Linked DNA regions of Homo sapiens: region 2 is linked to region 1. The links come from fine-mapping of genetic effects on gene expression. A gene starts in region 1. The other region holds a variant in brackets. All regions are shown on one strand. Distances are from middle to middle.

Region 1 (2,914 bases):
GACCAGAGATAAGGACTCAGAAAGACAACATGTTAAAACATGCCCGGCGCCAGGATCTACCTACCTTTAAACATCTATTCATTCATTTACATACTTACTAAGCTCAGGAGCTGGGCTTTTACTTTACTTACATTATCTCACTCACAAATCTTTGCTCTTCACCCTACTCCCCATCCTCCTCCTCAAAGTAAATGGTACCACCATTCATCCAGTTGCTTAGGCAGAAACCAGAGTCATTGCAGATTCCTTCTCTTTGCTGTCCTCACATATTGTTCACCAGCAAGCTCTGTGGATGCTAACTCCAAAACAGATCTCAAATTCATCCGTTTTCCTCCAAGTTCACTGCCACCACAAACATCTTGGCTAAATCATCTCTCCTCAGGGCTATTACGACTTTCCATTTGATTTCCTCATTTCCACTCCTATCCCCTTTAAATTTACATAAGAGCAATAGTTTGCTTCTCAAAATGTAAAACTGGCTCAAGTCACTCTCCTGTCCCTCACTCTACACAGGTCTAGGTCTCCTGTCATTCTTTTTTTTTTGGGGGGGGGGGATAGGGCCCCATTCTGTCACCCAGGCTGGAGTGCAGTGGTATGAACATAGCTCACTGCAACCTCGACCTCCCGAGCTCAGGTGATCCTCCCACCTCAGCCTCCTGAGTATCTGAGACCACAGGCAAGCGCCACTACACCCAGCTAATTTTTGTATTTTTTGTAGAGATGGGGTTTTGCCATGTTGCCCAGTCGGTCTTGAACTCCTGGGCTCAAGCGATCCGCCCACCTAGGCCTCCCAAAGTGTTGGGACTACAGGCGTGAGCCATCACGCCCCGCCTGTCATTCTTTAGGTTTTAAATGTTATCTCCTCAGAAGCCTTCCTTCACCGTCCAATCTAAAAAAAGACACACACACAGACACACATTATCCTTCTTCACAGCACTTGCCAGTCTACATCTACTTTATATGTTCATTTATTGCCTTATGCACCAGAGAGAACCGTTCGGGGGCTAGAAGCCAAGTCTTCACGTTTTCTGCTGATTTTCCGAACACCTACCGCCGTGTCTAGCACAAAGTAAGACCTCAATCTGCTGAATCAATAGATTAATTTTTTCAACCCCAATATGCCAATGTTACTAATACTTCTACAGAGAAAGGACCCACCCAAATCCCCAACCGCCAAGGAACCCGTCCGTGCTGCTGAGGCAGGAGAAAGACAAGTGCTCTTCAAACGCCCTCACTCACGGCTCCACCCAGGATGTGTCACGTGACCAGCGACACCGTCCCTCAAACCTGGAGTACCCCACACACTTCCCCTCGCATCCAAGGTCCTCCGCGGGGATCAGTGTCACCTCCTTCCCTCCCTGCTGGAGCTCCACTCTGCCTCCCCGCCTCACCCCGCTCTGACTACTGCGTCCCATTACCGGCTGTCCGGGTCCTCAGCGCCAACACCACCGACGCCATGCTTTCGATCACTCACTTCCGGTCTCGAAAAGTTTCTACTTCCGCTATCAGGAGATCTACTTCCGGGCCCTGCGTGGCAGTTGAAAGAGTGGCGGGAGAAGTTGCAGGTGAGCGTCCCCGGTCGCAGGCCTGCGGATTGGGCAGGGCTTCCCTCCTGAACACCGCTCTGCAGAATCTTGGTGGCTAAGGTGTCCAGGAGCCTCTGCAGCGGACCGCCAGCCTGAGAGGCGCAGAGCTTGTCGGGCAGGGGCCCGCTTGTCCCACTCCCCTGATTTGCAGATGTCAACGGAGGCCCAGCGAAGGGTCAGAGATGAGGCCCCCTCCCTAGTCATTCAACTTACTCTACTTAGCCAGCTGTGTGCCAGATGCTGTACTAAGCGCGGTGGATGCATTATTTTATTTAATTCTCACTACCTTATAAAATGGGTGCTGTTACCATCCCTGTTTTACTAAGGAAGAAACTGAGGCCTAGGCAGGTTACATGTCTCCTTCTGGGTCATACCTACAGTGTTAGTAAATGTTCAAGAAATGATTAGCTTTGCATATGACCCAGCAATTCTACTCCTAGGTATATACACGAAAGGGATTTGAAAACATACCCCCACAAAAACTTGTATGTCAGTGTTCATAGCAGCATTATTCATAACAGGCAAAAAAAGGAAACAAATTAAATGTCCAAGTGATGAATGGATAAACAAAATGTAGCATATCCATACAGTGGAATATTATTCAGTCATGAAAAGCAATTAACTACTGATACAGGCTACATCATAGATAAACCTTGAAAACAAGCTGAGTGAAAAAAGTCAATCACAAAAGGCCACATAGTGTATGATTCTATTTATATGAAATATCCAGAATAGGCAAATGCATAGAGACAGATTTATGGTTGCCAGGAGCTGGGGAGGGAGGGAAAGGACAGTGACGGCTTAATGGCTGCAGGAATTCTTTTTGAGGTGATAAAATAGTGATGATGGTTGCACAACATTGTGAATATACTAAAATCTACTGAATGTACACTTTTAAAAGGATATTATGCTGTGCAAATTATATCTCTATTTTTATTTTTATTTTATTTTTCTTTTGAAGCAGGGTCTCACTCTGTCACCCGGGCTGGAGTGCAGTCGTACAATCACAGCTCACTGCAGCCTTGACCTCCCAGGCTCAAGCAATCCTCCCACCTCAGCCTCCTGAGTATCTGGGACTACAGGTGTGAGCCACCATACCCAGCTAATTTTTGTATTTTTTTGTAGAGACGAGTTCTCACTATGTTGCCCAGGCTGTTCTCGAACTCCTGGGCTCAAGTGATCCTTCTGCTTTGGCCTCCCAAAGTGCTGGGATTATACGCATGAGCTACCATGCCCAGCCTATATCTCAATTTTTAAAAAGAACAGTTTTTGGCCAGGTGCAGTGGTTCACACCTGTAATCTCAGCACTTTGGGAGGCCAAGGCGGGC
Region 2 (2,914 bases), 520 kb after region 1:
GAGTTGGGAGGAGGAAGGAAATAAAAAAATGAAAAGATGATCTGAATATATCCCTGCCTTAGAGAGCTTCCAGGTAAGTCCAAGAGACTGACTTCAACACAGACCTGGGCTAATTGCCCATTTCGCTCCTTGCCCTGGGGCCTATTGTTTTCCACAAATTGCGTCCCCACTTGAGACTCAGTCTTCTCTCCCTCATCGCCATGCAGTCATTTCAGCCCAGTTGCAGAACAGGAGAACATGAATGGAAAAAGGATTGAGTCCACACTGTGGTGGCTGCAAGAGGTGATTCAAGATCTAACATTCTGAGTAGTTTCCAGACAGTTGAGGACAGCCCAGGCTGGGGTCCAGAGGTGGGGATCAGGCAGGAGGAGCAGGAGCAGCCAGAAGGCAGGATCAGCCAAAGCCCTTGAAGAATGCCAAAGGGCAAACTGCAGAAAGCGAGTTCAGGTGTCAGATCCCAAAGGCGAGAGGAGGGCTGTAAGTGGGAGATGACCCAGGGGGCCCTGGAATGGAGTGGGAGCAGGTTGGGCCAGAAGTGGGAAAGCTATCACCCTCACTAGTGACTGGGAGAATTCCCAGAAGGACAGCAAAGGTGCCCACTGTGATGGCGTGGATGGGCTAGGTCAGCACAGGTGCTCAGGCCAGGACAGATACTTCGTCCCTGGCCACCCAGCCTTGGCCATGGTCCTCACAACCAAGCCCCACAAGGTAGCCCCAAGCCTGGGCAGAGGAGCCCTGGGCATGAATGCATCCTAAACTCTACCCATCAGCGCTGATCCATGACAAAGTTTTTGTCCATCAGCTACAAACTGGAAACAACAACAACAACAAAACATAAGTGAGCTTTTAATAACGTTAATTTTTGTTTCTAGTTTAAATTCTGATATGATGGCTGTTTTACTTTTGGTGATAAGATGGCTTTTCTTTTATGAAGACATGGTGATGGGAGGTGATAGGGCTTTTTTTGGTTGTTTGAATTGCCTCACTAGGTCGGGAGCAGTGAGTGGCTCATGCCTGTAATCCTAGTATTTTTGGGAAGCCAAGGTGGATAGATCACCTGAGGTCAGGAGTTCGAGACCAGCCTGGCCAACATACTGATACCCCATCTCTACTAAAACACAAAAATTAGCCAGGCATGGTGGCACGTACCTGTAATCCCA[C/G]CTACTTGGGAGGCTAAGGCAGGAGAATCGCTTGAACCTGGGAGGTAAAGGTTGCAGTGAGCTGAGATTGTGCCATTGTACTCCAGCCTGGGTGACAGAGATGGTGTCTCCAAGAAAAAAAGGAATTGCCTCACTTGGCTAAATTTAAAGTTGACAATATTGGTTCCCAGATTTGAGGAAATTTTTTTCTCTTTTTTTCTTTTTGAGACGGAGTCTCACTCTGTCACCCAGGCTGGAGTGCAGTAGCACAATCTCAGTTCACTGCAACTTCTGCCTCCCAGGTTCAAGCAATTCTCCTACCTCAGCCTCCTGAGTAGCTGGGATTACATGTGTGCGCCACCACACCTGGCTAATTTTTGTATTTTTAGTAGAGACAGCGTTTCTCCATGTTGGTCAGGCTGGTTTCAAAATCCTGACCTCAAGTGATCTGCCTGCCTCGGCCTCCCAAAGTGCTGGGATTAAAGGCGTGAGCCACCGCATCCTGCCCAAAAAATTTTGATAAAGCATCAAATCCCAGTCTGGTCACCTCTGCTCTAAGAAACTAAGAAATCCTGTCCCTGAAACCCAGATCCTGGCTGCCAAAATAACACCATCATCCTTGCCATCAGCCACCACAAGGGCACTTACAGGGCATGCACTTTGAGCCAAGCTCAATCTAAGCCTTTGCATGTGCTAATGAACTCCTTCCCTGTTTTGACCTCTTGCCCACTTACTGTCTGCCAGATTTCTGGATTTGGCCCTCCCAGCTCTGAGCTCTGACAGATCCCACTGAATACCAGTTCCAATGGCTCCCTTGCTACAGGTTTCTGCAGGTCGTATCATGAGATTAGTTGCTATCTTAAATGGAAGCTCATGAAAGTGCTTCTCCGCTAAGGTAGAAGGAAACTCCATTTCGAACTCTCTCTGTCACTGCTGCTAAATGTCCCTTTTCCCAATGCTGCTGGGAATCTGACCCATGGACTTCTACAAACCTTCAGCAAATATGTGTTCCCTGGACTCTGGCTGCCTACCTGGAGGCTGACTTTGCCTGGAACTTTGCAGGCACCTCTCCTTCAGAGCTCTCATACCTACTAACACCCAATTACATCCTTCATTCTTTCCTAGCTTTATCCAAATGACAGTCAAGCTGCCTGGGGCTAAGGGGGATGATCTCTGAGTCCTGCATATAGATGGTGTATGAGATTTAAAGAAGGTGTGATTTTAAAAAAAGTGTGATTTGAGGGACGCTATTTATTTTATTTTACATAAAAAAGAAGAACCAGGATGCTGAAAATGATGCTATTGATTATAAATAGGAAGAAAACGCTAGTCGGTTGAAATAGCCAGTATGGTCTTGGTCATTCATAAGGAAAGAATGGCCCCTGTCCTGGGAGCTGGCTTTAGAAGAACCCACTGTGGCAGAACTGGTCAAATCCTCCACCACCTAGTACCTATAGGCTTTCAATTTCCTGCCAATAAGGCACCAAGGTCTGCCTGAGACTTGACATCTAAAAAACTCCTAATTGGCCAGGTGCGGTGGCTCATGCCTGTAATCCCAACACTTTGGGAGGCTGAGGCAGGCAGATCACTTGAGGCCAGAAGTTCAAAACCAGCCTGGCCAACATGGAGAAACCCATCTCTACTAAAAATACAAAAATTATCCAGGCATGGTGGCTGGCGCCCATAATCCCAGCTACTCAGGTGGCTGAGGCTCAAGAATCCCTCGAACCCGGGAGGCGGAGGTTGCAGTGAGCCGAGATTGAGCCACTGTACTC

Which allele goes with the higher level. Positions count from the first base shown, and alleles are read on the strand shown. Sizes are in standard deviations (SD) of each study's normalised expression.
As copies of G replace C in region 2, the expression in testis of the gene that starts at base 1,517 in region 1 goes up (small effect, 0.29 SD a copy in GTEx).

The links.
Region 2: its variant is fine-mapped to the expression of EME1 in testis (GTEx, PIP 0.97).

What each region holds. Positions count from the first base shown.
Region 1 is chr17:50,371,713-50,374,626 of GRCh38, forward strand. EME1 (essential meiotic structure-specific endonuclease 1) reads left to right here and starts at 1,517. Exons shown (of 9, transcript NM_152463.4): 1 at 1,517-1,565. MRPL27 (mitochondrial ribosomal protein L27) reads right to left here and starts at 1,472. Exons shown (of 4, transcript NM_016504.3): 1 at 1,419-1,472. The coding sequence starts at 1,458. RefSeq lists enhancers at 1,006-1,475, 1,616-1,835.
Region 2 is chr17:50,887,771-50,890,684 of GRCh38, forward strand. LOC105371825 (a long non-coding RNA gene) reads right to left here. Exons shown (of 3, transcript XR_001752940.2): 3 at 1-809. Among named protein-coding and RNA genes, the nearest start is that of TOB1-AS1, 23 kb to the left of the region's middle. The variant C/G (reference allele first, on the strand shown) is at 1,161.